3 separate regions of the Homo sapiens genome follow, and regions 1 and 2 are each linked to region 3. Evidence: fine-mapped expression QTL. A gene starts in region 3. Each other region holds a variant in brackets. All regions are shown on one strand. Distances are from middle to middle. Region 1 has its middle 24 kb from the start of CTPS1. Region 2 overlaps SCMH1 (Scm polycomb group protein homolog 1). Region 3 holds the start of CTPS1 (CTP synthase 1).

The links.
Region 1: its variant is fine-mapped to the expression of CTPS1 in whole blood (INTERVAL, PIP above 0.99).
Region 2: its variant is fine-mapped to the expression of CTPS1 in whole blood (TOPMed, PIP above 0.99).

What each region holds. Positions count from the first base shown.
Region 1 is chr1:40,951,591-40,959,783 of GRCh38, forward strand. No RefSeq gene overlaps it. Among named protein-coding and RNA genes, the nearest start is that of CTPS1, 24 kb to the right of the region's middle. The variant CAAAAAA/C (reference allele first, on the strand shown) is at 4,736.
Region 2 is chr1:41,153,810-41,162,002 of GRCh38, forward strand. It overlaps SCMH1 (Scm polycomb group protein homolog 1), which reads right to left. Exons shown (of 16, transcript NM_001394311.1): 3 at 7,555-7,623; 4 at 7,066-7,089. Among named protein-coding and RNA genes, the nearest start is that of SCMH1, 84 kb to the right of the region's middle. RefSeq lists a silencer at 2,830-3,019. The variant G/C (reference allele first, on the strand shown) is at 4,247.
Region 3 is chr1:40,976,182-40,984,374 of GRCh38, forward strand. CTPS1 (CTP synthase 1) reads left to right here and starts at 3,515. Exons shown (of 19, transcript NM_001905.4): 1 at 3,515-3,648; 2 at 7,097-7,275. The coding sequence starts at 7,110. RefSeq lists silencers at 3,304-3,493, 3,764-4,053, 4,124-4,263 and an enhancer at 4,464-4,513.

The DNA.
Region 1 (8,193 bases), 25 kb before region 3:
TGAGACCATACTTAGAAGTCACAAGAGCGAACTTCGTGGGACAAAGGCTGAGCCCTTGTGTCAGGTCCCTTCGAGCTGGAGTTCAATAAGAGACTAAGCTCTCCTACTTCTGGGTCTTGGCACAGTTCTCTCTTTTTGAACTGACTGATTAACTGATTGAGACAGGATCTCACTCTGTTAGCCCAGGTTGGAGTGCAGTGGCGAGAATATGATTCACTGTAGCCTCAACTTCCTGAGCTCAAGCAATCCTCCCAACTTAGCCTCCAGAGTAGCTGGGACCACAGGCGCCAGCCACCATGCCAGGCTAATTAAAAAAAAAATTTGTTTTTTAAGAGTCAGGGACTTGCCATGTTGCCCAGTCTGGTCTCAAACTTCTGGGTTCAAGCCATCCTCCCACCTTGGCCTTCCAAAGTGCTGGGATTACAGGTGTGAGCCACTGCACCCAGCCTGTTCTGTCTTTTTGGAATGACTTTCTCTCCCTTTTTTATCTAGTTGACTCCTAGACACTGCCTCCAGGAAGCCTTCTATGCTTGGCCCTTGGCTCCCTTGAGTCAGTGCCTTTCCGCAGCTTGCTGGATCAGTCCTTTGAAGGAACTTGCTATAGTGTGCAGTGTTTTCTTAGACCAGCAACTCTCACCCTTGACACCATCAGAATCACCAGAGGGGCTTGTTAGAACAGAGATTGCTGGCCACGGGCCCCAGAGTGTCTGATTCAGCAGGTCTGCAGTGGGTCCCGAGAATCTGTGCGTCTGCTCATTCACAGGAGATGCCAGGCCTCCTGACCCGGGGAACACACTTTGAGAACCGCTGGCTTAGACCACATGGTCTAGGACAGCAGGGATCTTGCCTATTTGTTCCCCCACTGCACCTCCAGCAGCACCTCACAGTCTCAGCCATTACATGGAAAGACAAAGTCAAATAACAAGACGTAATGTAGAAGATTTCCCAAGGCCTGTGTGCTGAGCACACAGGTCGGGCCCCGGCTGGAGGTGCGAACTGTCTCCGAGAGCGCCAGGTGAGTGCCCAGCGGGAGCAGAACGGGAATGGCAGGAGGCCCGTGCTCTGGGTCAGAGCGCCCTCTGGTGCCAACATCTCAGCTCTGCACCTGGAGCTGAAATTAGGTGACATCAAGGCAGACCCCAACCGACCTCCCAGCCCCTGGTTTTCCCCTCTCAGCCTCGTCCATGTCACCACCAGGAGTAACTTGCTAAAATCCAGCTCTGACCCTACTCGCCTTTGCCCTTCTCCCAGCTTAAGCCCCGCACTTGGCTCTCCACTGCCTTCTGGACAAACCTCAGCATTCAAGGTCCTTGGCTGTCCTCTGGTGACTCTGTTGCTTTCTGTCCTTCAGTATCCTGTGGCTCTCCTCAGGCACTCTTTAATTTGTCCACACCAGGCAGGTCATGGACTTTATGCCTTCTTACAAGCTATTCCTAACAGGACTGCAACCCCACCTTCTCCTCCAGAGAAACTGATCCTTTTTAATGTCAAATGTGGCCTCTTCTGTGAAGCCTTCCTGGATTCTCCCAGGCAGAAGCGATTGTTTCTTCCATTGTGTCTGTATAGCCTAGTGCACAGGCCACTGCGGAGTGGGGTCTGGGTCCTCCTTGAGACCATGAGCTCCTTCGGGCTCCTGACTCAGCTTTGGTGTATCAATAAATGCTGGAATCTACAAAGCTGTTTTCCCTCTTCAAAGCTAAAACCCACTGTCTACTACCTAAGTCTGCATAGATCCTTAGATATTCAATCATTTATTCAACCAGCAAATATACTTGAGGCCTTTCTTCTTCTTCTTCTTTTTTTTTTTTGAGACGGAGTCTCGCTCTGTCGCCCAGGCTGGAGTGCAATGGCGCTATCTCGGCTCACTGCAAGCTCCGCCTCCTGGGTTCATGCCATTCTCCTGCCTCAGCCTCCCCAGCAGCTGGGACTACAGGCACCCACCACCACGCCCGGCTAATTTTTTTTTTTTTTTTGTATTTTTAGTAGAGACGGGGTTTCACCGTGTTAGCCAGGATGGTCTCGATCTCCTGACCTCGTGATCCACCTGCCTCGGCCTCCCAAAGTGCTGGGATTACAGGCGTGAGCCACCGCGCCCAGCCTCTTCTTTTTTTTTTTTTTTTTGATGGAGTTTCAAGCCCAGGCTGGAGTGCAATTGCATGATCTCAGCTCACTGCAACCTCTGCCTCCAGGGTTCAAGCGATTCTCCTGCCTCAGCCTCCCGAGTAGCTGGGATTACAGGCATGTGCCACCATGCCTGGCTAATTTTGTATTTTTAATAGAGACGGGGTTTCTCTATGTTGGTCAGGCTGGTCTCGAACTCCTGACCTCAGGTGATCCGTCTACCTCGGCCTCCCAAAGTGCTGGGATTATACGCATGAGCCACCACACCCGGACAAGGCCTTTCTTCTGGCAGGCATTAATCAATTCCAGTGCAGGGGATACAGAGGAGAATAAAACAAGACGAAGTTCCTGGCCTCTGAGCTTATATTATGGTAGGAGAGAATGACAATAAACAAAATACTGTGTATTAAATACTGTTAAGCCAAGCTGTGCTAAATTGCATAGAGAAATTAAGCAGGGTAAAGGATAGAAGTTGATGGAGTGGTTCTATTTCAGGCAGTGTGGTTAAGAAAATACTCACTGATGGCCGGGCGCAGTGGCTCACACCTGTTATCCCAGCACTCTGGGAGGCCGACGCGGGTGGATCATGAGGTCAAGAGTTCGAGACCAGCCTGGGCAACATGGTGAAACCCTTTCTCTACTAAAAATACACAAATAAGCTGGGCATGGTGGCACACACCTGTAATCCCAGCTACTCAGGAGGCTGAGGCAGGAGAATCACATGAATCCCGGAGGTGGAGGTTGCAGTGAACCAAGATAGGGTCACTGCAATCTAGCCTGGGCGACAAATCGAGACTCGTCTAAAAAAAAAAAGGAAAAAAGAAAATACTCACTGATAAGGTGGCATTTGAGCAAAGACACAAACAAAGTGCAGATGTGAACCGTGCATGTGTCTGGGGGGAGGTATTCCTGCAGCGTGCAAAGTCCCTGTGATAGGAACGTGCTTAGCATGCTCTAGAAACTGCAAGTTGGCTGGTGTTTTAGGTCAGGCGATCTGGAAGCAGACTCTGAGAGGATTCCTGTATAAGTGATTGATTAGTGCTCCCTTAGGGGTAGGGTGGGGAATAACCAGCAAGGGTGTAGGGGAAGCAGGGCAGGGAAGAGGAGGAAGCCAAGCAAGCGTGTGATTTCATGCGAAATCCGGAGGAAGGTAGTCTCACCCTGATCCCACGGGGGTGGGGCGGGGTGGGGTAAGGTAGAGTCGGGTAGGAAGGGGAGCTCTGGCATATAAGTTACACCTCAGTGTTTGTTCCAACCTAAGGCAAGGTTGCTGAGACTTTCAAACTCTCCTCCCATTAACATCTGGCTAGGGTCATCCCAGGGAGCTTTTTCAAGTAAATTCTCAGGCACTTCCTCTGGGCAAAGTGGGCTCCAGTAGCGCCCTATCCAAAGAGCCATAGGTACTAGGTACTAGGTGTTGGGTACTAAGTACTAAATGTTAAGAGAAAAAGCTTAGCAAAGTTGGGGGCACACACAACATGAAGGAAAAGGGGATCTTAAAAGGATCTGGGTAAAATGCTAACAGTACCTGTGAAAGTCAGTGAGGTAGAAGAACAGAAGTCAGAGTAGAATCGTAAGAGAAGAGATAGTCAGCTGAGGCCAGATCAGGTAAATCAATATCTGATTTCACTCAAATAGGCAATGTGCTGAGCTAAAAAATCCACAGCTCTCCTTGCATCTAGGGGCGGCCAGTTCCACATACTCAAATGTCGATAAAAGTCAGCTGGAGGCACCTAAGAAAGCATTCATTTCCTGATAGAGGCACCACATTTTCTTCCTTGCCACTCCCTTCTTTTTGCCTGGAATGTGAACCCGAGGCTGGGGGTAAAGCAGTCATCTTGTAACCATGAGGTCACAGTGAGGCAAATGTGAGAGTAAAAGCTTTGTACTAAGCATGGTGGAGGGGCCTGAGACCCTGGTGATGTTGCAGAGAGGCTGCACTAGCCTGGGACGCCTGTCTCTAGACTTAATATCTTTTTTTGAAAGTTAACAAATCCCTATTCGATGAAGTCTGGCTTTCTGTTACATGCCAGTGGGCATCATCCCTAACCAATACTTCCTCCAAAGAGTTATAGATCTACACAGCCTCCTACATTCTGTGAGAGCACTTGTTCCCACTCAAATGCGCTGGACGTTATAAAGCTTTTTCCAGTTTGCCAATCTTCCACGTGACAAATCCTATCTTGTTTTCTTTCGGTTTTTGTTGTTTTGAGACGGCGTCTCACTCTGTTGCCCCGGCTGGAGTGCAATGGCGCGATCTCGGCTCACTGCAACCTCCGCCTCCCGGGTTCAAGCCATTCTCCTGCCTCAGCCTCTCAAATAGCTGGGATTACAGGCGCGCGCCACCACGCCCGGCTAATTGTTGTATTTTCAGTAGAGACGGGGTTTCACCATGTTGGTCAGGCTGGTCTCAAACTCCTGACCTCAGGTGTCACCACCCGCCTCGGCCTCCCAAAGTGCTGGGATTACAGGCATAAGCCACCACACCCGGCCTATCTTGTTTTATTGTGAATATGAGTTATGAGTGAGGTTGAGTATTTTTATATGTTTTTTGTGCATTTGTGTTTACGTGAAACTACATGTTTCTGTGCCTTGCCCACTTCCATTTGAAGGC[CAAAAAA/C]AAAAAAAAAAAAAAATCACAGCGGGCACTGGCATCTTAAGGGTTCTGAGAATTCCTGCAGCATGCAATGTGCATTTTAACTTTAGCATGGAATTCTCCAAAATTATTTGACCACATAACATATTTTGTCTTGGAAACCCTATTTCTATTAGTTAGGACTGAGCTTTCTAACTGGCATGCCATAAATGAGCCACAAGCATGTTGACCTATTCAACTACTCAAAATTTGACAAGAGCCAAAACATATTTGAACACTGTTAGATAGCTTCCTCTATGAACTTCCTGAATTAGGTAATAATTATTTTGGTGGTTAAGATTTTATTCAAAGCACTTGCCGCCAGAAAGACTTTGTCATGGCCACATTGTCCCACACTCCACAGAATAGTCTGACTATGATCCTAGTCATGATTTGTTTATCTGTTTATCAGCTGCAACTGATAAATTCTTCTTTATTTTGCAAGTACATATAAAATATTGGCTTTTCTTTAACTTAATAATTTTCTCTTATTTTTCTAACATAAAAGTATGGATATTATTATTTAATGTTATGTGTTTCCCTATAGAAAATGAGTTATTTTGGGCAGGGCATGGTGGTGCACGCCTGTAATCCCAGCACTTTGGGAGGCCGAGGCAGGCAAATCACGAGGTCAGGTGTTTGAGACCAGCCTGCCCAACACGGTGAAACCACATCTCTACTAAAAATACAAATATTAGCAGGGCATGGTAGCACACACATGTAGTCCCAGCTACTTAGGAGGCTGAGGCAGGAAAATTGCTTGAACCCAGGAGGTGGAGGTTGCAGTGAGCCAAGATCACACCACTGCACTCCAGCCTGGGCAACAGAGCAAGACTCTGTCTCAAAAAAAAAAAAAGAAAGAAAGAAAAGAAAATGAGTTATGTTGTTAATTTTCTCAATTGCTGTTTCTTGATTGGGGGAGTGTCTGTTCATTTTTAATGTTAACAATGAATACAGTTTGTTTTTTATTTTTTTATTTTTTTTGAGATGGAGTCTGGCTCTGTCACCCAGGCTGGAGTGCAGTGGCATGATCTCAGCTCACTGCAGCTTCCACCTCCCGGGTTCAAGTGATTCTCCTGCCACAGCCTCTCAAGTAGCTGGAATTACAGGCATGCACCACAATGCCCAGCTAATTTTTGTATTTTTAGTAGAGTCAGAGTTTGGCCATGTTGACCAGGCTGGTCTCGAACTTCTGACCTCAAGTGATCTGCCTGCCTCGGCCTCTCAAAGTGCTGGGATTACAGGTGTGAACCACCGCGCCTGGACGCCTACAGTTTGATTCTTGATGGAATTTCAGGATGAGTTATTGTTTGCTTTTAAAAATGAAAAAATGGGGCCGGGCGCGGTGGCTCACGCCTGTAATCCCAGCACTTTGGGAGGCCGAGGCGGGTGGATCACGAGGTCAGGAGGTCGAGACCATCCTGGCTAATACGGTGAAACCCCGTCTCTACTAAAAATACAAAAAAAAATTAGCCGGGCGTGGTAGCGGGCGCCTGTAGTCCCAGCTACTCGGGAGGTTGAGGCAGGAGAATGGCGTGAACCCGGGAGGCGGAGCTTGCAGTGAGCCAAGATAGCGCCACTGCAGTCCAGCCTGGGCAAAAGAGCGAGACTCCGTCTCAAAAAAAAAAAAAAAAGAAAAGAAAAAATGGTCTGGGTGTGGGGGCTCACGCCTGTAATCCCAGCACTTTGGGAGGCCGAGGTGGGCAGATCACTTGAGCCTAGGAGCTGGAGACTAGCCTGGGCAACATGATGAAACCCTGTCTCCACCAAAAAATACAAAAATTAGCCAGGTGTGGTGGTGCACACCTGTAGTCCCAGCTCCTCAGGAGGCTGAGGCGGGAAGATCATTTCAGCCTGGAAAGTGGGGGCTGCAGTGAGCTGTGATTGCACCACTGCACTCCAGCCTGGGCAATGGGAATGAGACCCTGTTTCAAAAAAAAAAAAAGGTTTCTAAAGTTAACATATACCTACTCTGACCCAATGTTTCCAGTTCTAACTATTCATTCAATAGCAACAGGTGCATATGCCCACAAAAAGACATGTGCAAGCATGTGTGTAGCAGCTTTATTCATTACAGCCCCAAACTAGAAACAGCCCAAATGTTCAACAGGTGAATGAATAAAGAAATTGTGGTATATCCATACAATGGAATACTATTTAACAATAAAAAGAAATAAACTTTAGCCATAAGCAACAACAAAGATGGATTTCTCCAACATGATACTGAGAGAAAAAAGCCAAAAAAAAAAGAGTATGTACTATATGATTCCATTGGTGCAAAGTCCTAGAACAGGCAAATCCAACCCACAGTGATAAAAGCCAGATTAGTGGTTATGAGTGAAGAAGTTAAGTCACCTTGCGGAAGGATTGAAATTGTCTCTATTTGAATCTGATACTTTTTTTTTTAGCCAAAAAAAAAAAAAAATCTATAACATAGAGATGTGGTCTTGCTATGTTGCCTAGGCTGGTTTCAAACTCCTGGCCTCAAGCAATCCTCCTGCCTCGGCCTCACAAAGTGTTGGGATTGCAGGTGTGAGCTGCTGCGCCTGGCCTAAATGAGCATTTTGAATAGACTAAGATCTGTGTCCACAATGGATGAGTCTGTGTTTGCAGCAGGTGGCTACCACAACAAGGTATCAAGGTTTCACAAGATCGTTCCAAAAAATCCTGAGATTCAAGCAATACATTTTTTTTCTTTTTGAGACGGAGTCTTGCTCTGTCGCCCAGGCTGGAGTGCAGTGGTGTCATCTCAGCTCACTGCAACCTCCACCTCCCAGGCTCAAGCAGTTCTCCTGCCTCAGCCTCCTGAGTAGCTTGGATTGCAGGCGCGCGCCACCACCCTGACTAATTTTTGTATTTTAGTAGATACCGGGTGTCAGGCCTCTGAGCCCAAGCTAAGCCATCATATCCCCTGTGACCTGCACGTATACATCCAGATGGCCTGAAGCAACTGAGGAACCACAAAAGATGACATTCCACCATTGTGATCTGTTCCTGCCCCACCCTAACTGATCGATTGACTTTATGACAACACATCCTCCTAATGCACTTTGTGATATTCCTCCGCCCTTAAGAAGGTACTTTGTAATATTCTCCCCGCCCTTGAGAATATACTTTGTGAGATCCACCCCCTGACCACAAAAAATTGCTCCTAACTCCACTGCCTATCCCAAACTTATAAGAACTAATGATAATCCCACCACTCTTTGCTGACTCTTTTTTCAGACTCAGTCTGCCTGCACCCAGGTGAAATAAACAGCCCTGTTGCTCACACAAAGCCTGTTGGTGGACTGTCTTCACACAGACGCGCGTGACACGGGTTTTCACCATGTTGGCCAGGCTGGTCTCAAACTCCTGACCTCAGATGATCTGCCCGCCTTGGCCTCCCAAAGTGCTGGTATTACAGGCGTGAGCCACTGCGCCCAGCCGCAATACAT
Region 2 (8,193 bases), 180 kb after region 3:
TTTGGACACCTATTGTAATGCCCATGATGAAGCCAGACATAATATTCTGCCATATCTCCAAGCACTAAAGTAACCACAAAAGAAATAGGACAGGCACCAAGGTATAGATCCAGAGTTAGCAAGTCTTCTGTTAAGGACAATATAATAAAAATTTTATGCTTTCTAGGCCATACAGTCTATGTCATAGCTACTCAGCTCCACCACTCCAGTGTGAAAGCAGCCACAGACAGTATGTGTGCCTAAATTAGCATGGCTGTTCCACTCAAACTTTATTTACACAAACAGGCAGAGGGCTGGATTTGACCTCCCAATAGTAGTTTGCCAGACCTCTGGTATAAATCATTGACTCTCAAGTGATACTTATAGTCTCATTTCTTTAAACAAAGTTCTGGGCCTCACCTTCAGAAGTTCTTATTCAGTAGGCTCCAAGTGTGGCCTGAGAATATGTATTTTCCAAGGCTCCCTAGGTAATTTGGATTAACATCTGTGACTAAGAACTACTACTGGTGTAGTTTAAATAATGTAATATTGGGAGTCTGAAGATGTTGGTAAAAGTCTTGTTTCTACAGCTAACTATCTTGGGTAAATTACTTAATCCTTCCAAGCCTAAGTTTACTCATGTGAAAGATGAAGACAATATCTGTCTTACAAGATTGTATATAGATTCTTCATTCAATAAATATTTAAACTTCTCCAAGTACAAAGAACTGTGTTAAATGTTAGGGGAACAAGGTAAGACATGATTTCTCAATTCATGGAGCTTTCAGTCTAGAGATAAACAGAGACATTAATAAACATAACACAAATAATCTGTTATGATAATGATAAAGTTTACGAGGTAGTACAGGTTGTCTTGAGATTGCAGAACATGAAAATCTCATTCATCCTTGGGCTCAGAGATTATTACGAAGATTAATATTATTAACTAACATAGGTATAATGTTTTATAATTTAAACATATATAATGTGAGTGTTTTCAATTATTCCAACATTATAATTCAAAATATTCAAACAGTATAATTTGAATGTTTTCAATTATTCATTCAACAGATACTTATTAACTATCCTCTATGTGCCAGGCAATATGACAGGGGTCCCTGCCCTCATTTACATGCTGGTATATGATGAGACACAACTAACACATAAACAATAAATAAACAAGGCAGTAAGTGAAAAGAACTTGAAGGGAATAAAATGAGGTGATGTGATAGAGACTGGGAGCTATCTTAGTAAAGTCATGGACAGATACTCTTCAGAGGAAATGTCTAAGCTAAGACTTTACAGATGAGAAAAAGCCATCTCATTTAGTAAATAATGCTTATAAAAGTGTTTTTATAAACTCTGATGCATACCACGTGATAGTTACATTTATTATTAAAAAAGAAAAAAAGGTACCTGCCCTGAAGAGACTTAAAAATGGCATTAAAGTACCTTGGCCCATAAAATATGGGCATAAGAGGTCACCTAGTTAAATGCATGAATCACCTTCTCTAATATTCATTCATTCAGCAAATATTTACTAAATACCTAGTATATGTTAAGCCTGGTTCTAGGCACTGGTGATATATAGCAAAATACAATACAGCCAAAGTTTGCCCACATGGAGCTTACAACAAACAAACAAACAATGTTTTGCTCCACATGGAGCAAAAACAAACAAACAAACAAACAAACAATATTTTGCTCCACATGGAGCAAAAACAAACAAACAAACAAACAAACAAATACGTCAGCTGGTCCAGAGGGTAACAGAGACACCAGATTAATTATACAATTCCTGGCTATTTTGAAATTTAAAAAAATAAAAGTAAGAGGTAAAGAAGGTGTGCTATTTTAGCCAGGGCAGTCAAAAAAGACATCTTGATAAGGTGATACAAAAGTTGACATTTGGGCCGGGCGCAGTAGTTCACTCCTGTAATCCCAGCACTTTGGGAGGCTGAGGCGGGCAGATCACCTGAGGTCAGGAGTTCAAGACCAGCCTGGCCAACATGATGAAACCTCGTCTCTACTAAAAGAAATACAAAAATTAGCTGGGCGTGGTGGCAGGCACCTATAATCCCAGCTACTTGGGAGGCTAAGGCAGGAGAACTGCTTGAACCCGGGAGGTGGAGGTTGCAATGAGCTAAGATCGCACCACTGCACTCTAGCCTAGGTGACAGAGTAAGACTCCGTCTCAAAAAAAAAAAAAAAAAAAAAAAGCTGAGATTTGAATGGTCCTTCCAGCCTCTGCTGAAATACTTCCAGTCATGGGACACTCATTATTTAGCTATTTAGCTATTACTCAACAGTACAAATGGACAGACCGCTCTTTATAGTCAGCCAACATCTGCCTTCTAACCTCTACTGGTCCTAGATATATCTAATCTCTATGTCCCAAATCCCTCAACTGCTCCTAATTTGACAGGCTGGCTACTCATGTCTGGCTACTGTTCTGGCCACATTCCTTTACAAGAACTCTACTTTGTTCAACCTAAATGTGAACCCAAATTCTTAAAAACAATTAAGCATAATCAACATCTTTAGATCAGAAATTCCACTCCACTATTACCGTATAAATAGTGTTCCATGTACCAAAATTTAAATAACAATATATTTGTTAAACGCCACTGATGGTAATTTAAGTGTCTTTATTTTATTTTTTTTGAGACGGGGTCTTGCTTTGAGTCAGTGTCAGGCTGGAGTACAGTGGTGTGAACACAGCTAATTGCAGCCTTGACCTCCCGGGCTCAAGCGATCCTCTCATCTCAGCCTCCCTAGTAGCTGGGACTACAGGTGTGTGCCACCATTCCTAGCTAATTTTTGTATTTTTTGTAGAGACAGGGCTATGCCAAATTGCCCAGGCTGTTCTCGAACTCCTGAGCTCAAGTGATCTAACTGCCTCGGCCTCCCAAAGTGCTGGGATTACAGGCATGAGACACAGATTTGGGATTTGTCCTAAGGGTGGGATTAGTGGACAAAGAGCATGCATAGTTTAGATTTTGATACAACATATATATTGCTGAAATATCCTCTAGAAAGAACATACTGATTTTTCTTCTTAGAGGCAGGGTTTCCCTATGGTGCCCAGGCTAGTTGCAAACTCCTAGGCTTGTCATCTTCCTGCCTCGGACTCCCAAAGTGCTGGGATTACAAGTATAAGCCAACTTTTTTTTTTTTTTTTTTTTTGAGACAAAGCCTCACTCAGATACCCAGGATGGAGTGTGGTGGCACAATCATATCTCACTGTAACCCCGATCTGGACTCAAGCAACCCTCCCCGCTCAGTCTCCAGAGTAGCCGGGACTACAGGTGTGCACCACTATGCTTGGCTAATTTTTTTCTTTGTAGTAGAGACAAGGTCTCACTATATTGCCCAGACTCAATTTCTATTCCTACCGAAAGTACACAGGTGTGTTTACCACATATTTGCTAAAACTGTGTTTTAACAATTTCCATAATTTTGACAAATCTTATCAGTGAAAAAATAAAATACTATTATAATTTTATTTGCAATTCTTTGATTACTAATAAAGTCAAAGATCTCTTTAGGCTTATCAGCCAGTCTGTATTTTATTTAGCCATTTTTCTGCTGAGATATTCTTTTGTTTTCTCATAGATTCTAGGAGTTCTTTGTAGATTAAGGAAAAGTCACTAGAAGAATTTTTACTTAATAGAAATAAAGCATCTAGAGAAAGTGTTCTTTTCACTATACCACAGGGTCCCTCTGAAAAGACACAGACTTTCAGGCAACAGAAAGAGAGCCTTAGATAAGGCAGAGAAATCAGAGGTGTTTTCGAAGGTCCAGGCAGATATCCTGATATGAGAAAGGTCTGGATTTGGGAGGCTTCACAGATGTAGAATCACAATATTCAAGCTACAAAGGACCTTAGTGTTTCCTAAAACTCATGGCTTTCTTGGTCCCATATCTTTGCCCATGTTACTCACACTCAGTGACTAAAGCTCAGCAAAAATTTTACATTTTCTGTCAGAAGGCTTTGCAGAAAAGGGCTGGACAAATTTTACCATCTCCCTATCTCCTATAACATCCTGTTCACATCATATCACCATAATTATTTATGTAAGCTCTTTATGGATGGGGGCTTATATTCATTTTTAAAATCTTTACTGTTTAACACAGTGCCTGAAATTTAATAGAGGCTCAATATGAGTTTCTGAGTGAATGAAAAGAAGCACACAAGTAATATTCCTATTCTTTCTTGGACTAATAAAATAATACCTGGGATATAGTTCTGAAAACTACACTTTGA[G/C]AGAGAGCAAATCTGAGTTTAAATGATTACCTAGTGATGGTAAACAGACCCAAAACCACATCACCTGAGGACCAGGTGAAGGAACATGAACAATTAGCATGAGTAAAAAAGTGAAGTCTCAGAGCCATTCCCCATCCATCCAACAAATATTTATAGTGTGTGTCAAAGCACTGTGCTGAGTGCTGGACATATAACTGTAATCAAAATATCATCCTTAACCTCACAGAGCTTCAGTCTAGTGACAGACAGAGAATCTAGTGAGGGACAGAGACTAAACAGTCACCACTAAGATAATGTGATAAGTGCTACACTGGAGAGACAGAGGGTGCTACAGGAGCACCCAGAGTGCTTGTGGAAACTTACCAAAGAAAGCTCTAGGCTTCTAAGCTAAAGTGTAAAAGGATAAGCAGGAGTCAAAGAAAAAGGAAACTCTTTTTGTTTGTTTCAGACAGAAAGAAAGGCATTATAAAGGCCCAGACATGAGAAAAAGCAGTTCTAAATGCAGATCTTTTGGTATGGCTGCTGGGTGGAGTTTACAGAAAAAGTAGTTTAGAAAAAGGTTACAGATAAAGGCAGTGTTCAGTCATTAGCGAGCCAAATATACTGTATTACTGAGAAGAGGAAGTCTTCAAGCGTTTGGGGTGAAGTCATTCTGGCTGTAGTGTAAAGAATGGGCAGGAGGGTGATAGGGCTGGAGGCAAAAAAGACTAGTTAGGAAGCTGTTTTAATAATCTAGGTGTGAGATTCAACTATGAAAGCGGCAGAGTGGCAATGAGAAGGCAGTCCCTAGAGCTTCTCTCTAAAAATCAGGGCCAGTAAGTGAAAAATAGGCTAACCCTGTTTCATATGGCCAGAAAGTCAGAGGGATGACTAACAGAAATTACAAAAAGAGCAAATTTTTGACCAATAAATATGTCTAAATATGAAATGAATTACGTGAGGAGGTTCTAAGTCCTCAAAAACTTGAGGAGTTCAAGATAAGACATTTTACAAAAAATTCAAAATGTTGAGTTTTAAATGCTGGGCAAGGGTAGATTATTTTATGGTCTTTTCCAACTTTGAGATTCCACAGATCTACTGAATTTTATTTCAGTTTGCTATTTGGAGCTGCTCCTTATGCTAGATGGTAAAAATGAAATATGCAGGATTAACTTACATCAGAGGATATGCCTATGCAACCAATGCTCTAGGAAAAATACACTTTCAAATTTTAACATCTTTTAGTAACTGATATACTCTATGTTAAATTGAGTACCCACATTTCACAACTCCCCATCAACAGTTTACAATATGCCTTAAGCTGTCACTGAGCTACAATTGTTATTATCATTCATATTAGCGACAAAACCAAAAACAACAGCAGCTATCACTGTCTTCCATTTGCCTGTACCATGCCAGACTACGTCCATTATCTCCTGTGTTCATTATAACCTGCAAAGTAGGTTTTACTCCCATTTTAAAGATGAGGAAATAGGCTTAGAAAGATTAAGTAATTTGCCTGAAGTCACAAAACTGGTAAGTGGGAATAGGAATTTGAACCTTGGTTCAAATTGTCTGACTCCTATGTCCATGTTTTTTCTACCACACATCAGTACCTTAAAAAGCTTGAGGAAAGTTTTAAAGAATAATAAAAAATAACTATCATTTATCAAGTGCCAGGCACCTTTACCTGCATTATTTCATTTCATTCATTTCTTCAGCTCACATTCATAGAATGCTTCACTTCAAAGAATGTCAGAAGATTTGACTTTTAGAGTAAAGTCTGAGTATAGCCGCTGAACAGAATGAAAATCATAATAATCCTCCAAAGTTGAAAAGTATTTGAGAGTTTTTAAGATGTTTTCACATCCATTAGCTCATGTAATCTTCTTTACAACCCTGTGAAGTAGGCAGAATGGGATTATTATCCCCATTTTACAAATAAGAAAACTAAGGATCAGAGTCACAAAGTTACTAAGTGGCAGAACTGGCTCTCAAAAAGCCTAGGAGTTCTGACTCCTAGTCTAGTGTTCTACTACTTCATGTTATCTTCTGTGTCACTGGGCAATGGAAAGTAATATGTTGCAGGAAAGAAAGGCAAGAGGAGGCAAATAGACAATGATAATAATAGAGCTAAATAAATATCAAGTTGTAACAAAATATATCAAAATACTTGAACAAAAATTGATACAGGTATCTGGATATCAAAATCTATGTAACATATAAAAGGATTTTAAAGGATTCTAAAATGTTAAGACTGATGTTTATGCAGGAACTCTGATTGAGAAGTATTAGAACTAGTTTTATTACTCAAATCTTAGTCCTGAAATACACTAACCAGGGAGGAAAACCAAATGCAATTATTGGTCTGACTTCTTACTTGATAATATTTTAATATTTCAGTTTTTATTTGTCAATAAAGTTAGAAAATGTTTAGGTTTAGTTTCAGTTCAATTTATCTTACAAGTAATTTTTTTGGGGGAAAAATCCCACCAAACACTGATTTATGGATGGCAGGGGTTTGTTTTAGTTCTGGATTCAGTAAATTAAGATGGTATTTCCAGTTTGGTTCAGTTCCTGTTCTCCCCTATACCCCATGTAATTAACCACCTTCCCTCCCTTCTTGTTAGCTTGGTCTGTGGCCTACTGATAAGCAGGACTTGATGTGACAGCTGAGATGAAGTACATGGGATAATTAGGCAGACAAGAGCACAGGATTCACTGGTTTCTGAGACAGAGACACGTGGAATTCTTTTCCTCGTTGGTTAAAACTGGTTATAATCTAATCCCTGGTTTACCAATTCCCCTTATTTAACAGAAACACAAGAAAAATAGCTTACCTAGATCCAGGATGTCAGCAGCTTCTAGTAAAGAAAAAAATGTTGGAGCATAAGTCATTAAGACAAACATACCAACATGATGGAAGGTGAAATTCTGGGGTAAAATAGGAAATCGAGTATTTGTCTAGTTCAGTTATCTCATCCTAAAAGACACTGAGATTCTTAGTAGTCATTGTGGAAGCACACCACCCAATTTTGCCTATTCCCAAGCCTAAACTTATACAAACTATAGAAAACCCAGAGAGGCTAAGCAACCGTGCCTAAAACTATGAAGCTAATTTGGGATTACCTATACTCAGAATCTAGGTTTCCTATTTCCAGCTAAAACAAAGTATATTGCTTATGACCAATACCTCTGTAAACTGCAATATTTGCTTCTGATATAACAATTGAGTTATTTGTAAACTCAGACCTCTAACAACGAAGGTTTTATGGGAAAAGATGCCGAGTAAAATTTTTCCACACCAAACGGAGTTTTTTCCCCCTTACCTTGATATTGGGATGCAGACTCTGATAGGTGACCATATTTGTGTTTTCTAACATCACTCCAGTCTATCACTGCAGAGGGAGAGAAAAATAGTCATGTGGAAAGAAAGTATAAGATTAAATACTTTTCCAATTTGGCAGTATGTATTAACAGTTTTTAATAAAGTAATCCACTTCCGAGATTCTATGCTAAGGAAAAATACTCCAAAATACAAGAAAAAGGTTTTATGTAAAAAGCCTTGGCATTGTTTACAATAACAAAAAAAGGAACACCTAAATGTTCAAAATAGAAGACTGATTAAGATTTGATAATACAAACACTTGACAAAGTATTTTGAAGCTGTTAAATTTTTAAAAGGCTAAAGAACAAATGGGAAAATGGTTATGTTATGTTATTAGGTAAAATATGGGGATAAAAATTATATTCATGGAATGATCACAATTATTTAAAACACTAAAAACAAACAGCACCCCAGTTATGGGCTCAACTGTATCCTCCAAAACTTCATGCTAAGGTCCCCACTCCGCAGTACCGCAGAATGTAACTGTATTTGTGATGGCAGCGGTGGGCCATCTGGAGCAGCTGCTGTCATCATGCCGGCTGCAGCAGGGAGGCACAGCTGGGAATGCATGCTCCATGGA
Region 3 (8,193 bases):
CCTGTGAAATAGGAAAAAATGAACAGCAAGTGGTTTCCTAGAAGCCAAGTAAAGGACACCCACCTTTTAAGGAGGAAATGATCAGCTGTGACAAATGCTCTTAGGGAAGTGGTCAGTTTGGGGGCAGCTCTGGGGCTGTATAGCTGCACCTAGGAGCCCAAAAGGAGACTGGGCCTATGGTGGGGGAGAGAAGCAGCCCAAATATGTAAATACATACACATGCGCACGTGCACACACACATATGCATTCATGCCATGCACATACAGCCACACTGTTGTCTATTTTTTTTTTTTTTTGAGACGGAGTCTCGCTCGTCGCCCAGGCTGAAGTGCAGTGGTGCAATCTTGGCTCACTGCAACCTCCGCCTCCCAGGTTCAAGTGATTCTCCTGCCTCAGCCTCCTGAGTAGCTGGGACTACAGGCGCCTGCCACCACGTCTGGCTAAGTTTTGTATTTTTAGTAGAGACGGGGTTTCACCATATTTGCAAACTGGTCTCGAACTCCTGACCTTGTGATCCACCCATCTCAGGCTCCCGAAGTGCTGGGATTACAGGCATGAGCCACTGCGCCCAGCCCACTGTTGTCTTTATTTGGGACTTACGGACATTAGAGATTGGAGTCTAGGCTGATGTACAAAGAAGAGGTCTGAGAACATGGAGGTTAATTTTTGACGAGATCAGTTTCAGTGAAATTATATGAGCAAAATATCCAGATTGGAATGAGTTCAAGAGAGGGAAGAAATTGAGACAGCAAAGTACAAACAACATTTTTTAGGAGTTGTGCTGAAAAGTGAAACAGAAATGGAGGGGGAGCTAGAGAATGGCATAGAGTCAGGAGAGGGGTTTTAAGATGGAACAAATTGCAGCATGTTTGCATCACGGTAGTGGAAAAGATCTACTAGACAGGGAAAGACTGATGACGCAGGAAGGGACATTCTACTAGACATTCTTGAGTTGATGAAAGGATATGGCACTTGCATACTAGACATTCTTTGAGTTGACAAATGGATATGGCACTTGGAGCAAAGAGGAGGTTGACCTCTGGGAGTGTGGGCAGTTTGTCCACAGTAACAGGAGACAACGCAGAGCTTGTGCGCAGATAAAAGTGGTTGGTGGATATGAAAAATCTACTGATGGCTTCTATTTTCTCGTGAAATGGGAAGCAAGACCACCAGCTGAGGAGAATATGGGGGAGGAGATGGAAGAGCTTTGAGGAAGAAGACAATGTCAAGTGGTCATTCAGAGGAGTGGTTGGGTGAATGGCTCATTTTTCCATCTCCCATAGCATCTTCATTACCTCAGCAAGTATGTTCTCAGCATCTGTTATGTTCCAGGCACTTTGATAAACATCAAATGCTTCTTGAAAGAAGATGTGGCTGTAGAGTACCTTCAAAGACAACCCAAACTTTTTTTTTTTTTTTTTGAGATAGAGTCTCACTCTGCCCAGGCTGGAGTGCAGTGGTGGGATCCTAGCTCCCATTGGCCTTGAATTCCTGGGTTCAAGCATTCCTCCAGCCTCAGGCTCTGGAGTAGCCAGGACTACAGATGCGTGCCACCATGCTCAGCTAATTTTTGTATTTTTTGTAGAGATGGGGTCTCACTATATTGCCTAGGCTGGTCTTGAACTCCTGGACTCAAGAAATCCTCCCACCCTGTGTCAGCCTCCCAAAGTGTCAGGATCACAAGTGTGAGCCACTATGCCTGGCATTCCAAACATTTTTTAGATTTGGAGCTGAATGCAGCATGGGCAGGTTGTCAGGGTTGAAGCACTGGTGATCCAGATCTGGAAGGAGCCAGAAGCCTCTAAAAGAGGCCACTGCAGGAGCCTCCTGACCTGGTTTCTGGGAATCCATCTGCTTCAATGATTTTCCTAAAACACAAATCTGATCCCATCACATCTTTTTTTTTAAAACTCCTTCAGTGAAGATAGTTAAGAACTTGTGGCAGACTGCTTCTAGAGAACAAAACAGGAACACTGGGGTACAGAAATAAGAGATTTACTTTTCATGGATACCCTTGTGTAGTGTTTGGGGAAAAATTATAACCATGTACATATATTCACTATTCAAAGGAAGGTCAAAAGCCTCTCAAAAGTTTCTACAGCTTTCCACTATCCCTAGGAGAAAGAGAAGCCTTTACTTGGTCTATAATGCTCTTCACCGTATGGCCCTACCCAACTCTTCAACCTAATCTCATGTTAATCTCGCTTCCTGTGGCCCTTGTGGACTTGGCTAGACTGGCCTTCCAATTCAGCTGTGCCGGCCTCTTTGGGCTTGTACACAGGCTTTTCCTTCTGCCTCACTTTTAAAAAAAAATTATTATTACTATTTTTATTTTATTTATTTATTCTTTGAGAAGGAGTCTCGCTCTGTCGCCCAGGCTGGAATGCAGTGGTGCAATCTTGGCTCACTGCAACCTCCACCTCCCAGGTTCAAGCTATTCTCCTGCCTCAGCCTCCTGAGTAGCTGGGACTACAGGCACCCACCACCACGCCCAGCTAATTTTTGTATTTTTAGTAGAGACGGGGTTTCACCATATTGGCGAGGCTGGTCTTGAACTCCTGACCTTGTGATCCGCCTGCCTCGGCCTCCCAAAATGTTGGGATTACAGGTGTGAGCCACTGCGCCCGGCCTACTATTATTATTTTTATAAGAAACGGGGTCTCGCTATGTTACCCAAGTTGGTCTCGAACTGTTGGGCTCAAGCATGTCTCACTTTCTTATCCCCGCCTCTCCCTTTCCCATCTTTGCCGTCTACTTAGGTCTCTGCTTCAAAGTTACTTTTTCAGGGCGGGCTTCCCGCCTGAATTCCCAATCACCACCGGACTTGGGTCAGTCCCCGCGCTGGGCACTCACTGCCCCGGCACCAGCATCTCTGCAGCAAGCACCCATAACAACCATAAAGTGTAATGAGCTGCTCAGTGTGCCTCCCTACATCGTTAGTCCGAGGAGAGGGTCCCTCGGTGCCCAGCACAGTGCGTGGCACAGTCGGTGCTCAGGGAGCGATAGCTAGATGAAACCGTACTTTTCGGGATCCTAGTCCATCCAAAGCAGCCGCCTTCGGGGCAGGTGTGGGGAGGAGGGAGGCCGACGAGGAGCCAACGCCGCGCGACCCTCCGCACTTCCGTCTTGGAGGCCAGGGTGGCGCTGCCGCCGTCCCTCGCCCGGAGGCAGAGATGCGCTGGCGCATCACCGCCAGGAGCCCACAGTGAAAGACCATCGGATGGAAGGCGACGCCCAGAACTCCAGGAGACCGCTGTGGGAGGACGCGAGGCCAGGTGACGAATAGGCCAGGCGTGAGTTCCCAAACAGCCTCCTCCCCTTCAAGAGAGTAAGCTTGGGCCACAGGCTGGGACGGAAGCAGAGGGGCAGACACGCCACCACCCGCCCGGCCTCGAACCTACGGCGGCACAGTTCAGCGGAGGCGGCCCAGCGGTCCTGTCCCGCGCCTGCGCACTCCAGGCCCCGCCCCGCCCCGCGCCCTCCAGGCCCGGCCCGCCCTCCAACCTCTGCGTGCGCACAGCCTAGAGCCCGCCTCCGTGAAAGACTGCCGGGCGCATGCGGTCGGGGTTGTTCACTGGCTGTCCGGGGCTCCGCGCGCGTCGCCGGCCCAGCTCTGTCGCTGACGGGAGGATCTGAAGCCGGCCGCAGGTAGGCTGACTCCAGGGATCCCGGGGGGGATCTGTTCTCCCGCGCAGGAGTCAGCGGCGCGAGCTGAGCCCGGCGCCGAATAGCCCCGCCGCCGCGGTGACGGACGTCGCTCCTACCAATCAGGGGCGAGGTGACTCGGCGTCCTGCCCAATGGGCTGTGTGCCTAACGGGAGTGGGGCGGGCGCCCCGGCCGGCGAGCTGCCGGCTCCCGCGCGCGGGCCTCGTGGCCGGGCGGCGCTGGGGAGAGGGGCCAAGCGGGGCGCGGGGCGGCTTCAGAGGCTGCGGGGCCTGCGCTGCCGCGCTGGGCCGCGCCGAATCAGCTCGGCCGGGCTCGTCGGACGGAGAAGGCCGTAGGGGAGTGGAGCGGCGCCCCCCCCCACACCCTCCGCCCTTGCTCTTCGTCTGCGAGGAAGCCCGGCAGTCGCCCATCCATTCAAGCAGTGCGGGCCTCGGGCCTCCGGCCTCGGCGCGGGCTCAGCCGCCCGGGGCTGGGCGCGGCAGCTCCGCGCCGTAGGACGAGGGGGCCTGCGAACTCGCCGGCCCTGGGCCCCGCGGCTGGCCTTTGGGCCTCACGGCTTCCTCCCTTCCCGGCGGCCGGGGGTCGGGGCGCTGGCGGTGTATAGAGCTCACCACGTTTGCGTGGCGCCCTTCCGTCCACGCTCGTTACAGTTTCGAATCCTCAGCGGCCCTGTGACGCGGGCGGCGCAGAGATTCTCACCCCCATTCCCCTAGGTGAGAACCCGCGTTGCAGGCAGCTCAAGTGACATGATTGAGGTCTGCACACTAGTGATGGGGGCTGGCACTTCATCTCATAACATTGAAAGAAAAAGCATTTCCCCCCTCAGTCTTTGTTGAATTTCTCTGATGCGTCTTGATTTACGTTACTTCTGTGCCGGAAAACCTTCTTGCGCCTTCCGTCACCTTCAGGATTAAGTTCAGATTGGGCATGCCAGTTTGCACATGATCTGGCCCTTGCCTACCTTTCCAGTTTATCTTCCACTGTATATCCCTGCTTCCCCGCCTTCCCCCTCACGGCCTTACCTCTGTTCTCTGTAGCTGCCCTGCACCTGCCTGTTCACCCTGTTCCCTTTCCTGTGCTCTGAGTCGTGCAGTCAGTCCTTCAAGGCCCATTGCAAGTCATATCTACAAAACAGGAGCCGCCTGGATCCGCCCACTACCCCCAGGACTTGTCTCACCTTCCTCTGATGGCCATGGTACTGAAAGCGTCTGCTCTCATCGTCCCCCTTTATAGTCTAAACATGTTTTCTGTCTGCTTCCACCGTCACTGAATTACTCATTTATTTGTTAATGTTTCATCTCTCCAACTGGACTGCCAGAAAGTTGAGATATGGGCCCAAATCTGATTAATGTTTGCAGTCCCCAAGCACAGTAGCTGTCATGTAAGTCAGTAGCCCATAAGGATGAATGAATGAGCCTCCCGCCTGATCTTTATGTACACTGGCATATGTATTGCCAGGCACTGAGACTGCAAGAATCTAAAGAGAGAAACTAAAGAACGTAAAGAGAGATGTTAAACTCTTAGAGTAAAATTGGGACAAATCAAATGTAATTGGATGAGATGAATCTTTTGTAGAAGTAACTCACTCGGTGGCAGAGGAATTTCTAGGATCATCCAAAACTTAGGGAGACCAGGGTATAGTCTCAGTAAGGTATATGTCTGGTTAGAACATATCTAAAATGTACCTAAGACTGATTTTCATGTGTCAATAAGGAACTGTAAAGTGAGAGACTTAGGGTCAGATAAGCTTGGAGACACCGCATACTGTATAGCAGTGATCACAGTGCGAGTTTACTTGCTAAACACTCCCAGGATTCTTGCGTTAAATGACTTGGTTTAATCAGCGTTTCTCTGATTTATATCCATAACACCCTTTTTGAGAATCCCATGTGCATTTTGTTGAAACCAGGGAGCATGCTTTTGGAAATGCTGCAGCAGAGGATGCAAAGAGCCTTTGGAGCGGGGAAGACTTCTGAGCATTCTTCCTTCCCTGCCAAGTGTGTTCTTTCTTGCTCTGGGGAGGGGGTGGGGCGGGGGAATGCTTCGAGCACAACTCCTTAGTTTTCTTGTTCCTTAGTTTATTTTTATCATAATTTGGCTTCACATGGAACGTTCCTGAGGAGGAAAATGTCCTGACCATGCCAAAGTAAGCATTTTCTGCTACTTTCTAATTGTGTTTTTCATTTTGGTCACATTTGGGTTTGCTGACCAAATGGACGATCCTGGACCTCTGAAGCTGGGGACCAGTGATAAATCCTCCGTGGTGAGCCTGTCACGGTCTCCTCACCTCTTGTCGATGCTGTTTTCACCTGCATCTTGACTCTGCTGCCCTTATATCTTATTTCTCCTTTCCCTGCCACCGTGGCACTGCTTTTTGGATTTAATCTCATCTCCCCTCTCTTTGAGTCCTCTGCCCGTCATGTGCTTCAGACTGGTTTCTTATCTGATGTCCCTCTCCCCCAGTATTTACAGTCTCTCTTCATTGCATGCCTGGGAGAGATTTCTGACAAGGAGCAAGTTGTTGTTAAATTATAGAAGAGAACTACTTTTTCTTTTTTTTTGAGGTAGTCTTATTCTGTCGCGCACGCTGGAGTGCAGTGGCATGATCCCAGCTCACTGCAACCTCTGTCTCCTGGGTTCAAGCGATTCTCCTGCCTCAGTCTCCTGAGTAACTGGGACTACAGGCGTGCGCCATCACAGCCGGCTAATTTTTGTATTTTTAGTAGAGATGCGGTTTCCCCATATTGGCCAGGCTGGTCTCGAACTCCTGACCTCAAGTGATCCTCCTGGCTCTGCCTCCCAAAGTGCTGGGATTACAGGCATGAGCCACCATGCCCAGCCAGAGAACTACTTTTAATTAAAGGAATTTTGGTTTAGCTGCAACCACTTTTAAATGTTGATGTTCTTTCCTTTTAGTCTATCTTTTGTAACCTAGAGGAGCTGTGTTTTCTTGATGATATGTTGTAGTTTAGCCAAAGACATTATTTATTTCCTGGAGAACTGGAGTACTTATCCAAGTTTGAATTTTTTTCCCATGTAGGGAAAATAATGAGGCACCTGCCTGGTATCCCAGTGTCTGGCAGTGATGTCAGCAAACATTTGGGGTGTAGTGTTCTATCAGCCAGCTTAGAGCTGGTTTTATTAGGTTGACTCTGAAGGTTATTAGTTGTCAAAGCTTTAAACAAAAGCTGTGTTATTAGAGTAGCAGTTGTTTTTCTACACGTATTTGACTAAAGCCATTCAGTGATCCAAGAAATGTTTGTTTTGATCCTATTTAAACCTGACGAGAACCTTCTGAAGTCCTGTGACAGAGAAACTGAGGCTTCAAGAGGGTTCATAGCTAATAATTGGCAGAGCCAGTGTTTGAACCCAGATGAGTTTGGTTTGTTGAGATACATTTATATCATCTGTAATTTTTCCTTCTTCCAGGTCAAAGAGTAAAATGAAGTACATTCTGGTTACTGGTGGTGTTATATCAGGAATTGGAAAAGGAATCATTGCCAGCAGTGTGGGCACAATACTCAAGTCATGTGGTTTACATGTAACTTCAATCAAAATTGACCCCTACATTAACATTGATGCAGGAACATTCTCTCCTTATGAGCATGGTAAGCACAGTGGATTTCTTCATAATAATTGCATGTGGCAGAACATGTCAGCACTTGGGAATTATGTGCACGGTTTGCATAACTTTTATTTTCTGCCTTCTAACAGGTCCCTTAATACAGCAGAATGATACTTTTCTCACCTAGAAAGGAAGAAGCAGAATTCTTTTTTTTTTTTTTTTTCTTTGAGACAGGATCCCACTCTGTCCCTCAGGCTGGAGTGTAGTGGTGTGATCATGGCTCGCTGCAGCTTCCACCTCCTTGGCTCAAGCGATCCTCTCACCTCAGCCTCCTGAGTAGCTGGGACTACAGGTGTAAATCACCATGCCTGGCTAATTTCTAAATTTTTTGTACAGGTGGGGTTCCACTGTGTTGTCCAGGCTGGTCTTGGGTCCTCCCACCTGTAATCCCAAAGTGCTGGGTTTTATAGGTGTGAGCCACCATGCCCGACTGCCTTTTACTTCTTTGTTGTTATTGAGAACCTGTCAATGGTGTGACATACAGCTGTGGCTGTTACTTCAAAGATTAATTGCTTAAAACTGGGAGAGATGTTAAAACATACCTCTTAAGTTTTAAAATTCTGCATTCGTACTCCTACTCTCTAGCGTTGAGGTGAAAATATGCAAGCATTAAATGTCACTAGTGCAGAAATCCTCGTAACAAATGGCATCAGGAAAAGATCCATATACCTGAGTGATATTTAATACAGAATTCTTGAGCAGAGGATGAGTTATCTCTCTGAGGGAGAAAATGAGACTTTTTTTCCTTTCCTGTGTTTGAGCTTGTCTCCTATTGTGATGGTAGGAATGAATCATTCTGGGCAAAATTTCTAGAGTGAAGTTTCATGGAATGAATGTGCAACAAAAGAATGGGGTAAATATGTGCAGTTTCACAAAGTTGTTTAGAACAAAAGCAGAGCTC